Regions from separate parts of the Homo sapiens genome. Here region 2 is linked to region 1. Evidence: fine-mapped expression QTL. Tissue or cell type: cerebellum. Region 1 holds a variant in brackets; the other region holds the start of a gene. All regions are shown on one strand. Distances are between the middles of the regions.

Evidence for each region. PIP is the estimated chance that this variant, and not a neighbour inherited with it, causes the effect.
Region 2: PRDM10 starts here. The variant in region 1 is fine-mapped to the expression of PRDM10 in cerebellum (GTEx, PIP above 0.99). The same link has a PIP of 0.9 or more in cerebellar hemisphere.

Annotation. Positions count from the first base shown.
Region 1 is chr11:129,946,481-129,956,637 of GRCh38, reverse strand. PRDM10 (PR/SET domain 10) reads left to right here. Exons shown (of 21, transcript NM_199437.2): 4 at 1,067-1,126; 5 at 9,268-9,493. Among named protein-coding and RNA genes, the nearest start is that of PRDM10-DT, 51 kb to the left of the region's middle. The variant A/G (reference allele first, on the strand shown) is at 5,439.
Region 2 is chr11:129,998,296-130,008,452 of GRCh38, reverse strand. It overlaps PRDM10 (PR/SET domain 10), which reads left to right and starts at 5,618. Exons shown (of 21, transcript NM_199437.2): 1 at 5,618-5,731. It overlaps PRDM10-DT (PRDM10 divergent transcript), which reads right to left and starts at 5,829. Exons shown (of 1, transcript NR_024233.1): 1 at 2,967-5,829. RefSeq lists a cis regulatory region at 1,216-1,562, silencers at 4,895-5,284, 5,995-6,314, 6,325-6,374, 6,405-6,584 and an enhancer at 5,395-5,484.

The DNA of each region.
Region 1 (10,157 bases):
CAGTTTATTACAATGTTACTAAATGTCTGAATTTGGATAATTTTTATTTTGTTTACTTATTTTTTATTTTTTTTGAGACAGAGTCTTGCTCTGTCTCCTAGGCTGGAATGCAGTGGCACAATCTCAGCTCACTGCAACCTCTACCTCCCGGGTTCAAGTGATTCTCCTGTCTCAGCCTCCCAAGCAACTGGGATTACAGGCACCCACCACCACAACAAGCTAATTTTCGTATTTTTAGTAGAGATGGTGTTTTGCCATGTTGGCCAGGTCTCGATCTCCTGACCTCAGGTGATCCGCCTGCCTTGGCCTCCCAAAGTGCTGGGATTACAGGCGTGAGTCACCGCGCCCAGCCAGATTTTTAAAAACTTTAGAAGAAAGGACATTTTGACATTTTTCTGGATTAGAGATATTAACTGTGGTGCCCTGGCTACAGTAGTTTCGAAGAATTTTCTCTAGTTAGCTTTGCTGCATCATGAGCCAACTTAGTTTATGATGATTAATTTTTTTTTTTAATTATGACTTTACTGACTATGTAGAAAAGAACTCATGGAACATTAAGTTCAATTTATTTTCCTTCTACTTCTCTTCTGATAATAAACATGCACTTACATTTGAAATAGCTGTAATCCTTGGGTATGTAATCCTCTTCTAGATGCCTGTCTATCTCCATCCATTTTCATTTCATCACAAGTCTACTCCCGTGAGCAGTGTTATGTGTGAACCTGTGAACCCTTGTTCATGTCATGTCTCTTGTGTTTTCATGAGATGCCTTTTTAATTAACTGTGACATTCAGTCCCAAGAAAGGCTTTGCTTACGAGTAAAATTGCGAAGTATGTTAGCCATTGGGATGGTTAGCTTATACAATCTCTTTGGAGCCATGTGAATGAAAAGCTTTAGCTAAATTTAAGATTACTATCTTTATTTTCTGTATTAATGAAAGCTTATTACTGGCTAAAATGGGAGTTAACTTTTCTAAAAATTGGTGCTTAGCAGTAGGATAATTTTTCTGTGTAGGCAGGCTATCCAAAGAGCTACTGATAATTTTTTGTTCGTTTGTTTGTTTAGACTCTGTTTACAGACCCCGGCCAGGTAGCTTATGTCCAACAGGATGCTACAGCTCAGCAGGTAACGAACTGCCTTTTTCTTGTTTGGGGATAACACTGTGAATGCCACTGCGCCTGGAATGCCCCATCCCTTTGCACTGCACCATCTCTGGATGTTTGTTTCTCATGTACTAAGAATGTTCTCCAGCTCCTTTAATGAAAACAAAGCAAAATGCAACATAATATTAACATATTTCAATAAGTATATACTGGAATAATCTGATAATAGAAAGTGATTTGTCAGAGAAATTTTTTAAAATAAGCATATAAACAGGGTATTTGTTCAAGTACCAAAGAATAATCATGAGGTTTAAAAGTGTCTCTTTTTTTGGAAATTGATATAGCTTTTGTACTTGCTCTATTTTTAAATACTGAAAAAAAATTCTTGCTTAAATTACATATAAATTTGGTTCCAATTTTCCTCATGCCAGCTTCTAAAAATTTGAGTTCTTCTTGGTTTTCTTTTAAAACATTTCTTTCCCATTACCTTCATTTCTGATATATCCTACTTGGCTTTGATGACTTCCTCCTTATTTCCTGCAAGAATGTGAAAGTGATAAAGAAGGTGTGGAAGCAGCTGGGCACAGAGGCTCATGCCTATAATCCCAGCACTTTGGGAGGCTGAGGTGGGAGAATCGTTTGAGACCAGACTGGGCAATATAGTGAGACCCCATCTCTGCAAAAAATTTAAAAATTAGCCAGGTGTGGTGGTGCACACCTGTGGTTCCAGCTACTTGGGAGGCTAAGGTGGGAGGATCCCTTAAACTCAGATGTTCAAGGCTGCAGTGAGCTTTGATTGCACTACTGCACTCCAGCCTGGGTGGCAGAGTAAGGCCCTGTCTCAAAAATAAATAAACAAAAACCAAATAGGTTTACTTTCATGTCAGGTAGTGTGACTGTAATTTGTCTATATTACTGAGTGCCATGACTGATTAATAATTAAATTATTCTCATTAAGAAGCACTTTCTGGCCAGGCATGATGGCTCACACGTGTAATCCCAGCACTTTCAGAGGCTGAGGTGGGCGGATCAATTGAGGTCAGGAGTTCGAGACCAGCCTGGCCAACATGGTGAAACCCTGTCTCTACTAAAAATACAAAAAACTTAGCCAGGCATGGTGGCGGGTGCCTGTAATCCCAGTTACTTGGGAGCCTGAGGCACAAGAATCACTTCAACCTGGGAGGTGGAGGTTGCAGTGAGCCAAGATTGTGCCACTGCACTCCAGCCTGGGTGATAGAGCAAGACTCCATCTCAAAAAAAAAAAAAATAAATAAATTAAATTAAAATTTAAAAGAAGAAGCACTTTCTGCTTTTTTATTTCTTGGTAGAAGATTTGTATGCTTCTATTTTAAAATTTAGAAAATGAACCCTAGTTATATTCATATCATCTGAAATATAGAGAAGTTTGTTAGGAGCCTTTTTTGTATAAGTTGGGGTTAAATTCATTCATGACTGGCAGTGAACGGCAATGTAATGGGGTCTTTGAACTTAAATGAGAATTGTTATTTATTTTAATAATTTTTTATAATACTTAGGTATATTCTTGACCCAAACCAACCTCATTTCTGTAAATACTTATTGATTCCATCAAGCAAGCAATGGATTATATATATATAATATATATATTTTTATATATTAGGATATACTATTATATACTTCATTTATTATTTTACATGTAGATTATTTCCTTTTTTTTTTTTTTTTTTTGCTACTATAAAGAATGCTGTCATGGACATCATATCAGATTATTTCCTTAGGATAAATACCCCAAAGACAAATGGTAGAGACAGAAGATATTTGTATTTTAAGTTAAGAACCAAATTTTTTGTAAAAGTGGAAAAACATACAAATATAAAAACCAAACCAATGAAATAAAAACCCAGAATTCTAAATTTGAATTGGAATATGAATATGGACTTATAATATGTTTTCTCTTAAAAAACATGTTTTCTGGCCAGGCACCTGTAATCCCAACACTTTGGGAGGCTGAGGCAGGCAGATCACTTGAGGCCAGGAGTTCGAGACCAGCCTGGCCAACATGGTGAAACCCTGTCTCTACTAAAAATACAAAAATTAGCTGGGCGTGGTGGCGCATGCCTGTAATCCCAGCTACTCGGGAGGCTGAGGCAGGAGAATCGCTTGAACCAGGGAGTTGGAGGTTGCAGTGAGCCGAGATCACACCACTGCACTCCAGCCTGGCAACACAGCAAGACTCCGTGTAAAAACAAAACAAAACACAAAACACACAGAAATGACGGCTGGGTGCAGTGGATCATGCCTGTTATCCCAGCACTTTGGGAAGCCAAGGTGGGCGGATCACCTGAGATCAGGAGTTTGATACCAGCCTGGCCAACATAGTGAAACTCCATCTCAACTAAAAATACAAAAATTAGTTGGGCATGGTGGTGGGCACCTGTAATCCTAGCTGAGTACTCAGGAGGCTGAGGCAGGAGAATCGCTTGAACCTGGGAGGCGGAGGTTGCAGTGAGCTGAGATCGTGCCATTGCACTCCAGCTTGGGCGATAAGAGTGAGACTCTGTCTCAAAAAAAAAAAAGACTAATTTTAATATTTTAGGTATAAGATATGCAATCTAAAAGTCATTTCATTGTACTCAACTATTTACAGATGAAAATGTATAATGTCTTGGTTTTGCTTCTCCCAATGAGGGAGGAAGTAGGTAGGAGATTAGTTGAAATAAGATTGGCCATGAATTGGCCAGGCACGGCGAATCACATCTATAATCCCAGCACTTTGGGATCCCCGAGACAGGAGGACCACTTGAGCCCAGGAGTTAAAGACCAGCCTAGGCAACATAGTGAAGACCCCTGTATGTACAAAAACTAAAAAAATTAGCCAGGCATGGTGGCACGTGTCTGTAATCTCAGCTACTCGGGAGGCTGAGGTGGGAAGATCACTTGAGCCTGGGAGGTTGAGGCTGCCATGAGCTGATTAAGCCACTCTGCACTCCAGACAGACATTTTGTCTCTTAAAAGAAAAGATGTTGATTGGCCATGAATTGATAATTGTTGAGCTGAGTTATGGATACATGAGGAATAAACCTCATGTATAATAAAATACTATTCTATTTGATATTTGTGTGAAATTATTTTGATAATTGATTTTCTAAATTGCTTTTCAGACACTGAAAATATTTGTATTCCCACCAACAGTATAGTATACAAGGGTGCCCCATTTCCACACACTCTTGCCACACTGAGTATTTGCATTCTTTTCAAATTTTGCCAATCCGATAGGCAAATTTTTGTTGTTTTAATATTAAGGGATAGTTTTAATTAAAGGCTTCGTTGCCATTTGCACTTCAAAGGGCCCTTCATCTTTTCCAATCTCCAGAAACAATCTGCTTGTTTCATGTTTTGCTCAAAAGGAAAGTTGTACTCAGCTCCACAAACCCTGACATTACAAGACAGTGTAACTATTGGCTTAGCATCTTTCTTCATTGTAGTTTCCTTTCCACCAGCACAGTTTTTATTTCTGGTTATAACACCTCAGTGGTTGTCAGTTTATCTGGTGACCTGGATAAATTCTGGATAGAAAGTTAGATTGAGGGTTGAACACAGAGGATGGTTTTTTTTTTTGGTTTTTGTTTTTTTCTTAGCCAAAAGGTTCCCATTATATTTTCAGTTGTTTTTAGTGGGGGCAGAATGTGCTTGAATCCTTTTTCATGTATGCATTCCCCCGTCCTTAAGAAAGGCATCAGTGGTCTCCAGGCATAGTCTCCTCTTTGTTTTTGAAAATGAACATGTGTGACTCCCCACACACTGAGAGGAAAATATGCTGCCCTGATAATTGGTCTCAGTAGGAATCAAGAAGCATTCTGTTGTGTGTGCTGCTGTCCAGCGTGGTCGTTTCATGTTTCACTTCTCAGATAAATTGTATCCTGAAATGCATTATGTCCTTTCAGAAATAATTACAGAGAGTGGTATTAAGTGGGAAGGAGAAAGTATACCGTAAGTTTATAGATTCTTTTTGCTTTTACTGTATTTTATTGTACATGACAAAATGCACAGGATTAAAATGGTTTTGCTTCAGACTCCTTTCCTCTAAGTGAAACAGACAGACACTGCTTGCCAACCTACCGCCTGGCTATGACCTCAGGGACATGTGTGGTTGGTTACCTTGTTGCCCAGGTATTCAAAGCGTGGGTGACGTTTACCGCTTCTGCTGCCCTCCTTGAATAGACTGAATTCCATAGGGCCATCGTGATGTAGTGGAAAAGGCAGTGCAGAGTCAGAATTTAGACTTCATCTCTGCCACTTAGGAGCGTTGTAACATCACCTGGCCTCAGAGGGATTCAAATACCTGCCTAGCACTC[A/G]GTAAACACCAGCTGAATTTGAATTTGTGGTTCATTAAATTTGTAATGCATGCCTGTTGTGTGTTAAGGTTTGTGTTGTCTAGAAGTGTACAGTTCTTATCTAGAAATGATGGTCAGCAGCTCTTTCCGTTCCTTTTCCACAGCAGTTTGCATGTTTCTGGTAAATATCCAAACTCCGCTTTTAGAGCCAGCCTCTAAAGATGCTGCTGGAGTGTTTAAGCATTTCCTTTTGCCACAGTCTGTTAGGAAAGAGGTCCAGCATGGGGAAGTGAAGGCCGGTTTTATCTTGATGTCAGCTTTCTCAGCAGTGGCAAGAAGCCAGTCACGTTGCCAAACCGGTGTCTTTCTGACAGCATCTGTTGGGAAAAAAATACATCGCGGTTTTACTAGAATAACTGAATTGCTGAATTCATTCTTTCAGGTTGGCTCTGCAGAGCGAGTTTATGAGGAGTAGAGGTGTACATATGCTTTGGTTTGTTCAGTATGTGATAACATTTATCACTAACCCTGGCATAATGCTTAAGCGCTTAGGACAAGGGGCAGTATTGTAAGCTGTGCTCTGAGATGGGGAGCAGGAATACAGTCACTTCCTTGCAGGTTCTGGTGAGGAGGTTGAGGGGGAGGTGGCCACAGCAGCTGCACTGCTAGAAGTTCCCTGTGGAGTCCTCACCCTCACAGGGCATTTTATGCTGTTTTTATTGAAGCTGAGGCAGAAGCGTCTTCCAGAATTTGGCTTCCCCCGTAAAACTTTCTAAAAGACCCTGAATTGCAGAAGTGGAATGTCAGGCAAAAGTCAAATGAGCATGTGTTAAGTGTGCGGATGCAGTTTGAGATAACCGGTTTGATCTGCTTTCTGGAGACAGAGTGTTTCAAATGTTGGGTAACGCTCTTACACAGCCGTTGCAGGTCAGGCCCTCAATAAACACACTCAGTACCGTTTCTTTAGAGTTCTTTTTTTATTATTATTTGAGACAGGGCCTTGCTGTGTCACCCAGGCTGGAGTGACACCATCACAGCTCACTGCAGCCTCAACCTCCTGGGCTCAAATGATTCTCCCATGTCAGTCTCCTGAGTAGCTGGGACCACAGGCACGTGCCACCACTGCCCAGCTAAATTTTGTATTTTTTGTAGAGACAGGGTTTCACCATGTTGCTCAGGCTGGTCTCGAAATCCTGGGCTCAAGCAATCCTCCTGCCTCAACCTCGGAGAGTGCTGGGATTACAGGCATGAGCCATCACGCCTGGCCTCTTTTTTTGGGGGGTGGGGGGGTGGAGTTTCGCTCTTGTCACCCAGGCTGGAGTGCAATGGCGTGATCTCAGCTCACTGCAACCTCCGCCTCCTGGGTTCAAGTGATTCTTCTGCCTCAGGCTCCCGAGTAGCTGGGATTACAGGCACCCGCTACCATGCCCAGCTACTTTTTTTTGTATTTTTAGTAGAGACAGGGTTTCACCATGTTGGCCAGGCTGGTCTCAAACTCCTGACCTCAGGTGATCTGCGCACCTTGGCCTCCCAAAGTGCTGGGATTACAGGCATGAGCCACCATGCCCAGCCACACCCAGCCTCTTTTTAGAGTTTGATAAGTTCTTCGATTAAGATGCACAGCAGAAAAAGGATGTTTCTGTGAGTACTGCAAAGACTTCCTCTAGATGCCTGAAGGGATTGGTGTTATTTCCCAAAAGGCCAAATATATTTCAACAAATTAATCTTCATTGAACACCTACTTTATGCTCAGCGATCTTTTAAATTTGAGGAGGAAGTATATGATATCATCATGGTCCTTAAAGAACTTAGGATAATAATGATTAATACTAAGCAGTTACTAAATGCTATACACTCTGCTACTGGCCTTATATACATATTGTTTCACTTAATACAACAACCTGAGGCATGTATTACTGTGTCCATTTTACAGACAAAGAAACTGAGGTTCAGAGAAGTGTAGTAACTTGCTAAGGGGTGGGGCAAGGATTTTACTCTAAATGCCTGACTCCAAAGCCCATAGTCTATTTCCCTGAGGTGCAGTTGGAGAGGCAAGATGGACTCATGTGAAAACGCATACTCATCACCAAAATAGATGGTGTTTGGCAATGGATGCAAAGCTGTGGGGATAGTTAATGTGTGAGATGTCTGGATCTGAAGTCTAAAGATCTTGGCAGATGGGAAGAACAGATAAAAGCAGTGAAATGAAATTTACTGGAGATAAATGCAAAATCCCCCATTTAAGTAAAAATCAGCTCTTGAAGTCCTGATGAGGGGAAAAATGGTTTAATAGCACTCTATGAGGGGAAAAGAGGACTTAGATATTTTAGTTATCTGCAAGTTCAGGATGGGTCTGCAGTAGAGCAACGTGGCCAACGTAAACACTAATGCACCCTGATGTTGTATTAATAAAAATATGGAATCCACTGCGAAATAAATGAAGACAACAAGATGATTAGGGAGCTGGGAGTTTGGTCATGTGAGAAATGACTGAATGAATTAGGGTTTTTTGGCCTTCAGATATTTGATTCTTGTGGCGGAAGGGTTACACTTATTCTAGCTACCTCCAGAGGAAAGTCCTGGGCCCTAACCAAAGCGTGGAAGATCTGGGCTCCACAGAAATTGTCATAGAACTATTTCAGAATGATTCAGGCTGCCTGGTGAGGTCATGAAATGTGGAAGCAGATGCTGAGTGCTGTTGTGGAGTGGGATTCTATGGCTCCAAGGGCTGCAGGAGTTCAGAGCAGAGGAGACTCAGGGAGGGCTGGAGGCATCAAAGGCGGTTCACTGGGAAACTGGAATGTGGTAGGATTTAGAAGGTGGCTGAGGAAAGAGTATTTTAGGTGAGGAAAACAACATATGAGAAGATAAAGGGAGTGGCATTTTTAAAAACTTGCTTTATTTATTGAATAGGACATGGCTTGAGTATGACCTTGTGCTAATTGGGCAGGAGGAGCAAGATTGCATAAAGGGATTCTAGGCCAGTGTATAATCCCATAACACTTAGATTGGAGGCAGGAGAACTTTTTAAGGTACCATTTTTATTTTCTGCCAGGATATTTGATAAGATAGCATTAACCTAATACATGACCCAAACTGTGTCTTATTTGCAGGAGACTGACTTCAGCATGATGAAACAAACAGGCACCTCATCTCTTTCATTCTTACTTAAAAACCTCAGCCTGCCTGAGCTGTTTAAAAGGAGAGCTGTGAGCTATGGAACTTTGTTAACCATGTGTTGCACGACGTGTTTAGTTTTAAAAGACAAGTGGTTGAGGATAGGTCAACTCATTTACCCCCTCCAGTGTGGTATGGCTACTCTGGAAAGGCAAGAGGGACCCCCACCCCAGGTTTAGTTCAGATGTGGAAACTGATGATACCTCACATGTGCACACATCGAAACGGTCTGTTGCTTACCTATTTGAAGTCTTGGGAGACAGGGCAGGCCTCTCAAGCAGTGTGAAACGGCTGAATGAGCCAGGAAGAGACCAGGTTTTATTAAGTTTTAGGGGTGGGGTCAGGACGCAGGTGGTCAGGGCCTTGCCAGTGTTGACTCTCCCACTGCTGCCAAAGGAGGGAGCACCTGAGCCTTCTTAGCAGCCCTCCCAGGTGTGGGACAGAAGGGGCAGAGGGAGGGCAGAGGCTTAAAGGCTGTGAGCAGTCAGATCAAAAATGAAGCCAGCTCTTCCTCACAGCCGGTAGATGGAAGTCATTTTTCCAGGGCCTGGAAGGAGTTGGTAGGAAGACTAGATTTCAGCCAGCCCTTGCGCCCTGTTTGTGCCAGCAGGCACCAGCGAACCAAAAGCAGGTGTCCATGTCTGCTTACTCTGTGCCTTCAACTTTTGCCCAGGCCTCATTGCCAGTTCATAACCAGGTGCTGCCTTCCATCGAGAGTGTAGATGGGTCCGACCCTTTGGCAACTCTGCAGACCCCTCTAGGCAGACTGGAGGCCAAAGAGGAAGAGGATGAGGATGAGGACGAGGACACTGAGGAAGATGAGGAAGAAGACGGTGAGGACACGGATCTGGATGACTGGGAGCCAGACCCGCCCCGGCCCTTCGACCCACACGACTTGTGTAAGTGTGGGCACGGGTCTCCCCCAGGGAAGCTGTGTCCATCTTGTGTGTCTGTGTACGTGTGCGTGTGTGTGAACATAGCTCCCGTGCGTCAGGTCCTTCCGTGTGCAGCCAACTGTGCTACATTCTCTGCTTGCTTCATCCCACCTGGCCTTCACTGCAGCCCTTTGAGGGACACTCTCCTTCGTTTTCTGATTTACTGATGAGTAAACAAGCTCAGAAGATTGGGAAGCTCGCTGGGGGTCACACAGGGACGAAGGGGCATCAGGCAGCCAAGCCCAGGTCTCTCACACCAGAGCTTCAGCTACCAAACCACCATGGTAGATTTGCCCGATCCTGCGCTCTTCAGCCACTTCAGCTTTAACAAGTTTGCCTTGCTGCTTTGCCTCTTCCATGATAGCCTTTTAAGAATGCTGTTCTATCCCAGGCGTGAGTGCCCTGAGTCTACTACCTCCTTTATGCCCTCCATGGCCCTACCATGAGGTGGGTAGCTTTCCCAGGGCTGTGCCAATAATTTGAGGGTCAGGACTCCAGTTCAGGCAGTCTGGCCCCTCGGCAGCGCCCTTGATCAGCCACCCCACCCTACTGCTTGCTGGGGGTTCACATTCCACCACCAAGAAACCATCAGTTTCTTTCTGTGGATTTTCTTGCTTATGTGGCAAAG
Region 2 (10,157 bases), 52 kb before region 1:
AAATGAGGTCTCACTCTGTTATCCAGGCTAAAGTGCAGTGGCACAATCATGGCTCACTGCAATCTCAAACCTTCTGGGCTCAGATGATCCTCCCACCTCAGCCTCACAAGTATCTAGTACTACAGGCATGCGCCACCACGCCAGGCTACTTTTTTCTCTCTCTCTCTTTCTTTTCTTTTCTTTCTTTCTTTTTTTCTTTTTAAATAGAGACAGGGTTTCACCATATTGCCCAGGCTGCTCTCAAACTCCTCACTCAAGTGATCCACTTCGGCCTCCCAAAGTGCTGGGATTAACAGGTGTGAGTCACTGTGCCACCTGGCCCCAGCTAGTTTTTCATTCAAATCTTAAAAACAAAAACACCCAAAACTGTTGCTATCTTATAAATACTCATCATCCCAGCTATCCACATTCAGATAATTCCTCACTCTCTCCTTCTCCCCGACAACCCCAAACAATCTTGTACCACATAATTTCTTACTTAATAATGTTAAATTAGTTTCCCATGGTTGTCATAACAAAGTATCACAAACAGGTAGCTTAAAACCTTAGAGATGTATTCTCTCTTGGCTCTGGAGGCTAGAGGTCTGAAATCAAGGTGCCCGCCCTGTTCCCTCTGAAGCCTCTAGGAAAGAACCCTTCCTATCTCCTTCCAGCTTCTGGAGGTTGCCAGCAACCTTCAGCATTCCTTGGCTGGTGGACACGTCACTCTCTGTTGCTGTTTTTAGCCTTCCTATTCCCTCCCCTGTGGATCTATGTCTTTGTTTTCTCGTCTTAAAAGAACACTAGTTATAGGTTTTTAGGGCCTACTTTATCCAGTATAAGCTCATCTTAATTAATTATATCTGCAAAGGCCCTATTTTTTTTTTTTTTTTTTTTGAGAGGGAGTCTCACTCTGTCACCGAGGCTGGAGTGCAGTGGCGCGACCTTGGCTCACTGCAACCTCTGCTTCCCAGGTTCAAGTGATTCTCCTGCCTTGGCCTCCTAAGTAGCTGGGACTACAGGTGCACACCACCACACCTGGCTAATTTTTTGGTATTTTTAGTAGAGACATCTTGGCCAGGCTGGTCTCGAACTCCTGACCTCAGGTGATCCATCTGCCTTGGCCTCCCAAAGTGCTGGGATTACAGGCATGAGCCACCATGCCTGGCCTAGTTCTGTCTTTTTATTCTCCTTTAATCTGGAACAGTTTTTCAGGCTTTCTTTGCTTTTCATGACATACTTTTTTTTTTCTTTTTGAGACGGGGTCTCGCTTTGTCATCTGGGCTTCAGTGCAGTGGTGTGATCATAGCTCACTGCAGCACATTAGTTGTTTTCGTTGGCCTATCTTATCTGCCATATGTTGGCAACAGATGTGACTCTTCACCTCCTATGCTTTCTTCAGGTGACTCCCAGTAAACTTCCTAGCTCTCCCTTGAAGCTACTATTGTCAAAGTTACCAGCAATTTCCACCTCTGTCTTTCCAGATCCACAGGTTAACTGTCATTATCATCAGCTTTTAGCAATATTTGCTGCAGCTGGCCACTACATCCTTCTTGAAACACTGTCTTCCCTTGGCTTCTCAGACACCATCCTCTCCAGGTTCTCCTCCTGTGTTATTTCCTTCTCAGCCTTTTGGATGGCTGCCTTCCTATCATCCACCTCTAAATTCAGCAGCTCCCATGAGCTCAGTCCTGGATACACTTGTCTTCTCTATATACACACTCTCTCTCATCTAATCCTAATTAGATGACCACACCTAATTCTATGTATTTAGATATAATGTATAATCTGATGAACTGTATTCCTATAATTGTATTTCCAGCCCTGATCTCTCTTTTGGATTCCAGCTGCCTACGTGGGGTGTCTAGTTGGATTTTCCAAAAGATATTTCCAATTCAACATGGCTACAATACAACTCTTGATTTTCTAACCATTTATCTCCCAGTGTTCCTAATCTCAGTTAAGGCATCAACATTCATTGGCCACTCAGTTTTCAACCTTAGAAGTCATTCTCGATCACTCCCTTGTCACCAGGAGCAACTTACACTCTGTTCCATAACTTATTCATTTGCAAGTTCTGTGGCTTCACCTCCAAAATATATCTGGTGTCCATACACTTCTCCCCATTTAAGCTACTTCTATTTCAGTCAAGATGGGCCATCGTTTCTTATTCAGAGCATATTGGCACAGACTCCTTGTCTCTTGCCCTCTCCCCAAACAAAATAAGCACCCTAGAGCAGCCAGTTATTTTGAAAGACAAAACTGTGTTACTACCTTACTTAAAACCTCCAACTAGTTTAAGTTGCACTTTTTTCTTTCTTTTTTTTTAATTACCACACTTAGTCAATGCTCCTATTAAGTTGCACTTTCTATAATAATTCCAATACCATAGCCTTCAAAGCCTTATGTGGTCTGTCCCAGACCTATTTCCCCAAGTTTTCTTGTATCACTGTATCCTTGTATCACTACACTCTTTCTTGTATCACTCTGTCCTGTGTTCCAATAATTCTGGCCTTCTTACTGTTTCTCAAGTGTGTTAGACTGAAAGCTCAGTCAAGGCATGGATTTTTGTGTTGTTTTTCCTTTTGTCTATAGTGTTAATTGACGAATCACAGAGCATCTAAGACAGTGCCTGGCATTTGGGAAGCATTCAATGAATATCTATTCAATAGAAGAATGAATATGTGCACGCCATACTAATTTTTTTGTTGTTCACCTCATGGTCTTTACTTTTGCCATTCTCTTAGATTGGAATGTTCTCCAAGATCTTAACATGGCTGGCTTTTTTTTTTCCCCCATAACTCAAGGCTCAGCTCAAATGTTAGTATCTTAGAGAAAACTTCTTTGGCACCCTATTTAAACTGCCAGCGTTCTCTGCCTTTGCATTTTCCTGGTTTACTTTGTAGCACTTATCATGACCTGGAGTTATTTCTTTTCTTCTTGTTACCTACACTAGAATAAAGCTGCATGACAGCAGGGCCTTTTTTGGTTGCTGTTGTTCCCTATTCTATCTTTATTGTTTAGAAAAATGAATGGCACACAGTACATATTCAATAAATACTTCTTGTATACCCCAGTGAGTGAATTTTACAGTGTAAACTTTAAAAATCATTTAAAAATCCACATAAAAAGCAAATTCCTGAGGTTCACTCCAGACCCTCTGAATAAAAACTCTGTGGGGAGGAATCTCCCTGCACATATTTATGTACTTAGAAGTTTTAGAACATTTCTCTAAAGCCATGAGAGTAACTCAGGCTCTTCAGTTTGAATAGCCCCATTCCCCATGGTGCGTTCTCTTTTGGGTTCTGTGGTGTTGTTTCTGGTCAGTGGACCTCAGTTGGGACCATCTCAGTTCATCAGCAAGGATGTAATGATGTTAAATCTAAAAGTGAGCCGTTCTTACTGAGGCCAGGGGTATGTGGAGTGGCAGCTTTTGCAAGGACACAGAAGGACCTGTCCAACCTGCGGCATTGTTCATCTACTCGTAACACTAAAAGGGAGCATTCAAGGGACTCTCTTAGCCAATATGATCTTTCCTTAGGCAACTGATTTCCATGTCTGTGTTGCCAGAGTAGGGCTACTAGTGTCTCTCACTAGCTATGTTAAGGTCGGCCTCATCTAAGTCCAGTGCCACCTGTACAGTGGTTTAAGGAAGAACAAGACACGGCCTAGATGTGAAGTTGTTTACAAAGCAGTTAACTGTCTGAAGTTTCTTCTTGTTGTTGTTTTGTTTTTTTAAAGACAGAGACTTGCTCTATCACCCAGGTTGTAGTGCAGTGGCACGATCACAGCTCACTGCAGCCTTGACTTCCTGGGCTCAAGTAACCCTCCTGCACAGCCTGCCGGTAACTGGAACCACAGATGTGTACTGCCATGCCTGGCTAATCTTTTTGTTTTTTGTACAGAGTCTCACTATGTTGCCCAGGCTGGTCTCGAACGCCTGTGCTCAAGCGATCCACCCGCCTCGGCCTCCCAAAATTCTGGGATTACAGGCGTGAGCCACCGCACCCTGTCACGAAGTTTAAAAAAAAAAAAAAGCTCTCTTTTCTTTCCACGTTGTTTCCAGCTATTTAAAGAAACAAAATGGTAGACTAGACGCAGTGGCTCACATCTGTAATCCCAGCAATTTGGAAGGCCAAGGCGGGAGAATCACTTGACGTTAGAGTTTGAGACCAGCCTGGCCAACATGGGGAAACCCCATCTCTACTGAAAATACAAAAATTAGCCGGGCGTGGTGGTGCATGCCTGTAATCTCAGCTACTAGAGAGGCTGAGGCAGGAGAATCGCTTGAACCCGGGAGGCAGAGGTTGCAATGAGCCCAGATCTCACCACTGCACTCCAGCCTGGGCAACAGAGCGAGACTCCGTATCAAAAAACAAAACAACAAAACAAAACAAAAAACAGTAAAGAGAATACTATTGAGTTAATTTTACAGTTTTTCACGCTGTGGGTGTTTTCTATTCTCGTCTTTTGCTTAGCTGTCCTGTCTCCCTCTTTTTCTCAGGCAATAGTTTAGGATTTTTGTAAGTTATATTGTCAGTACTTCTCATTTAAGTTCCAGACAGTGTGCTAAGCAAAGCACTTTACTCGGTAAAGTAAGAGCTCACTTAATCTTCAAAATAACGTAGCAAGGTAGATATCACGAACATAGCAAGGTAGATATCACCGAAGGGAAAACCGCTCCCCGAAGGTCCGAAGGTCCAAGGTCTCTCTGCCATCTAGCTGCCCTGCGTATTGCCTGCCAGTGGGTAGTTGGAGCTGGGTATCTCTCCAAAGCTGGGCTCTTGGCTGCCCTTTGTGAAGGCAATTTTAAGGGACAGCAGGATGTGGAAGCCTGCGGTTAAGGAGTGAGCTGAGTCACTGGGTAACCAGTGTTGAATAATGTTTCTCAATGTCTGAAATGACACTCACTTCCTTTCCAGATTGGTAGAGGAGAAAAAAGAGGCGCAGTGAAAGCGCTCTCAAGGTGCGGTGGGTCAGGGTGATAGGCGGCGCCCGGCCGCTCCCTGGGGGTCCTGAGGGCGAGACCCCGGCAGGCTCCCGACTCCGGGAGCCGGGCGGGAGTTCGGTTTTCGCCGGCGCTCCACGGCCAGGCCACTTCGGAGGCAATCTGTGGCGGGGCGGGCGGACGCGAGGGCCGCCTCACCCCCGCGCGTCTTCCGGGACACCGGGCCCTCGGGCGCGCGGGAGGCGGGCTTAGCACGGGCGCAGGCTGCCCTCGGCGCCCGAGACACCCAGGCACAGCTGGAAGCTTCCTCCCCGTTAGCACGCGGGCCGCAGCGGGGGCTTGACCCCAATGCGAAGAGTCGGGTTTTCTGATTGGCTGAGAGTAGAAACGCAGGCGAGCGCCGCCTGAGACCCGCTCTGCGATTGGGTTTTACACGAACAGCAGAGCACGAAATAAAGAGGCCTTCAGTCATTGGGCCATTATGTGAATCTCCTTTTGGCTTCTCTGCAGACTGAATAAGCGTCTCAGGATCTTCGTCATGACTCCTAAATCTGGGCCTGTCAGTTCGCCCCAGCGTTTCTCGTCTCTAGGCACGGCATGGGGCTTACAGAGTTTAACCAATCATATAACGTCGAGATCAGGTTGCCAGGCAGATTATGCTAATAAGACCCCGCCTTTTATGCTGCTCCCACTCTGCGGCGGGAAGAACCACCTGGAGGTGGCGGGGGGGGTTGATTTCTATCACCCCTAGGGAGAGAGGATCGGGGACCCGCTGATCTTCCAGCTCCCCTCACCCAACGTCGTGTAAGTACCTAAAGGATTAAGGGAACCAGATAAGCCAGGGTCCAGACTACCCCATAGACTGGGAGGGTGTTTCGTCTTTGCTTAGTCCCACCCAAAATGGCGCCCAGCTCTTTCCGCGTCTCAGAGCCCGGCCGGGGCCAACCGACCGCGGACCCGGGTGGGGGGGGAATTGATGGTGGTGGTGGGGGGGAGAAATCCCGGCGGCACCGCCCGATGGTACAGTCCAGCCGGGGCTGGGACGAGGCACCTCACTCGGGGTGGGGGGTCAAACCATCTGCACCTTCCAAGGGGAAGAGGGCAAGGCCCCCTCCAGCAGGCCCTCCTGGCGCCGCGTTCAGCGCCGGCCTCGGCGTCTCGTCGCCCCTGCCTTCGCCGCGCGCAGCCTCCCCCTGCGACCCCCGAGTGGCTCGCACGCTCCGCCGGCCGCGCGCACCTCTCCTCCCCTGCCCGCGTTGGTTGGGCCGGGACGGCGGTTGGGCGGCCTGCGCGCTCCGGCGGCGGCGGTTGCGCGGGCGCTCCGGGCGCGGCGGGCAGGTCTCCGCCGGCCGGGAGCCGAGCACCGGGGGCTGGGGGCCGGGCGCCGGGCTGGGGGTGGCAGTGCGGGCAGGGCTCCGGGGCTGGCCGGTTGCGGGCGCGTGGGGCGGAGGGTCCTGTTCGATGGGGCGCCCAGCTTTGTCTGCGGAGGCCGCGCCGCCCACTTGCCATCGATGGCTGGGCCCCCGGCCTGCCTTCCCAAGCTAGCGTCCGGGACCGGGGCGGGGGGCCGGCCCGCAGGGGTGTGGGGTGGCCCCTGCGGGTCTGTCCCGTGGCACCGCGTCGGGGCTGGCCGGGCGGAGGCGGAGGCCGAGGCCGGGGTCGCGGCCCTGCCCCAGTCCGCCTGCACCCAGGGTGCAGCGCAGAGGCAGGGCGAGGCCGGTCGGCGCTCGGGAGAGGGCTGATGGTGTGCACCTCTCCAGCCCCTCGCCAGCTTTTGTTAAGCAGGTTTAACCCTGCAGCTAGGTGTTGATACTCTACTAAGTAAAATGGAATATTCCCCGTCTGCCCTCCAGCCACGCGAACGCAGCGCTGTTGAATTTGTGTGCGCGCCTTTAGCCTTGCTTGGTGGATGAGTTGGATTTTAGTGCATTTTCAATCAATGTGCGTGTACACTTAAGCACAAGGAGAGGTGGCTTTGTGCTGTCATCGAGGATTAGATGTGTGATGAGACCCACCCAGCTCTGCCCTGTGCCCTAATTCTGCTGCTTTGCCTGTTGAAACCTTGCCTGTCTCGTCACCCCAAATTCTCTAAACTTAGCAGTACTTAACCTTTATTAAAAACAGCAGAATCACTCATGACTGTTTTGTGGCCTCTTTTTCTGACCTGTTCTCTTTGTTTCTATCACTCCTCCATCGCTGTAAGGCAAGAAGGTGTATTATTACATTGTATTTTTTTTGTATCTTCCTACCATTCCAGCATCACAATAGCTTCCACTTTGATGAGCAGTACTTATTTGTTGTTCTAGAATAGAGAAAACAAGATTTTTTTTTAAAATTAGGATTGGTTGGGGGCAAAGCAGCGTTTAAACAGTGTTTATTCAATATGGGGTATTTAGAAAGGAACTTTGCTAGGTTTATTTAGGAGACAGGGTCTCTGGTTGCCCAGGCTAGAGTGCAGTGGCGCGATCTTGGCTCACTGCCGACTCGACCTCCCGGGCTCAAGGGATCCTCCTGCTTCAGCCTCCCTAGTAGCTGGGACTACAGGCGTGCACCACCACGCCTGGCTAATTTTTCTACTTTTTGTAGAAACGGGGTTTCATCATTTTGCCCAGGATGGTTACGAACTGCTGAGCTCAAGCAATCCTACCGCCGCAGCATCCCTAAGTGCTGGGATTGCAGGCATGGGCCCCCGCGCTCGGCCTTTAGGTTTACTTTTACAATAAATTGAGGTGAAGTTGACACAGAATGAACCATTTTAAAGTGAACAGGGACGTTTAGTGAAAGGATTACATTTTTGTTTGTTTTGGATCAAGACAAATGTCTTGTGCCTTCTACCCCGTAAGCTCCCACTCTGCTATGCTGTTCCTCGTTTTGCAAGGCAAAATTGTTTTGCTTTTTCAAAGAATTCATTTTTAGTTTTTCTAATATTTTGTAGCATGCTCCACCACATATTAATCATATATTGTATGTCAATGTAATTGAGTATATATTTTAGAAAAAGCAAGGTTCCTGTCTTCAAGGGCTCTGAATGGTTTTTACTTAGAGGTTATGGAGGTATAAAGGATAGCACAACTCAATATAATCCCAAATTGATTGGCACTACCTAAGTTTCTGCTTGCCTGTTTTGTTTTTCCTTCTAGTTTTAAGAATAATGCGTGATCATTGGAGAAAACATAAAATTTAAGCCGGGCGCTGTGGCTCATGCCTGTAATCCCAGCACTTTGGGAGGCGAGGCGGGCAGATCACCTGAGGTCAGGAGTTCGAGACTAGCCTGGCCAACATGGTGAAAGCCTGTCTCTACTAAAAATACAAAAATTGGACGGACATGATGGCAGGCGCCTGTAATCCCAACTACTCGGGAGGCTGAGGCAGGAGAATCACTTGAACCCGGGAGGCAGAGTTTACAGTGAGCTGAGATCGGGCCATTGCACTCCAGCCTGGGCAACAAGAGCGAAACTCCGTCTCAAAAAAAAAAAAAAAAAATTTAGAAGCGAGTGAAAAAAAACAAAACCCATAATTACCCAGAGATAATCTTTGCTGATACTTTGGTGTATTTCAAGTTGGTTTTGTGTGTGTATAAAATATTTGTACAAACGACATAATCTTGGTTTAATATCTAGTTTTTAAAACAAGACGTAAATAGGTGTCTAAAGACTTTGCTGATGATTGGGCACTTTCATTACTTCCATTATTTGAAGGGGGCATCATGAAGTCCGCCGAACTAAAAGAATTATAATATTTTGATTTCTTGTAACTTTTTAAAAGCGTAATCTAATTGATAGGGATAGGCTTCTGGATAACAAACATAATTCATCAAAGGGCTGAGAAGTACTGAGCTATAATTTTGGTTTCCTCAATTTTTCATTTTAAGCACTGGTAAACACCTCGTAACCGCGTAATTATATCTGGTAAAAAGAAACTGTTAAACATCCTGTTGTTGCAGTGTTTGAGTTGTTCAGTTTGTTTTAAACTTGAACACTGATGTACTTTGACCTATTGCCACTAAAATACATAGTCTTCTCCCATCACATCCCACCCCAGATAGTGTAGCCACACCCAGTCCAGCAATTTGTTTTTCACAAGCAGAATTTATTGTCTACCATTTTAACTTATTATAGGTACTTTAATAGATTAATGAAGGAGAATTCGATCTGGTGTCTAGAAAGAGCCAAAAAGAAATGTTTGCTACAACCAAATCTTTGGAGAATGATCCCACTCAAATTCTCCTGGGGGATAGGTAGAGGCAGGAGGGTGAGAGGGGAACTTTTCGTGACTTATTTTGGCCCTCATTGGTGACACTTATCTCTTCGCTGTTCTAGCATTAAACTGTTCACGTGGTTTAGTTGAATCACTGCTTAGGAATATCTGGCCTCTTTTCTTTTTTATTCTTAATGTTATAACACAGCCGGGTGTGGTGGCTCACACCTGTAATCCCAGTACTCTGGGAGGCCAAGGCAGGCAGATTGCTTGAGTCCAGGAGTTCGAGAACAGTCTGGCCAACATAGCAAAACTCTGCCTCTACTAAAAACAAAAAAGTTAGCCAGGTGTGGTGGCCCACAGCTGTAGTCTCAGCTACTCAGGAGGATGAGGTGGGAGAATCACCTGAGCCCCGGAAGTAGCGGCTGCAGTGAGCCGAGATCACGCCACTGCACTCCAGCCTGGGCAACCAGAGTGAGACCCTGTCTCCAAAAAAAAAAAAAAAAAAAGTTATTACACCATTTCACCATTTCAAGACTTGTGTGGAGCACTCTGGCCATTTCTGTCCACCTTCCAAAATTTTTCTGTGCCTTTCCATTGACCATCCTTGTGTAGATTTTAAATTTGTGTTGTAGAAAGCACCTGAAGGTAGATTCTTCTTCTGTAACTTGAAATAGTTTAGGGAATGGGGAGCGGGTGAGGAAGTGGAGTGGAAAGAGGGAAGGTATGGGTAACCCTAAGTATAGTTACAGCAAGACTAGTTAAAATGTGGTGAAAACAATTATAAAATCAATAGTGCACAATAGTTTAGAACCTTATATGGATTGCTAAAAGGTTACTGTCTGCTAACATAGGCTGTAGTTTGCTATTCATTTTTTAGTTAAACTCTCGTTTATTGCAAACAGGAGAATATTGGAGTCAAATGCTCCTCCTCCTCCCCCCCTTTTTTTTTAACCCATGTCCTTCACTTTCACTGATGGTAAAGTTGTACTCCACAGCTTCTTTCCTGCTGTGATTTCTAGAAATCAGATCC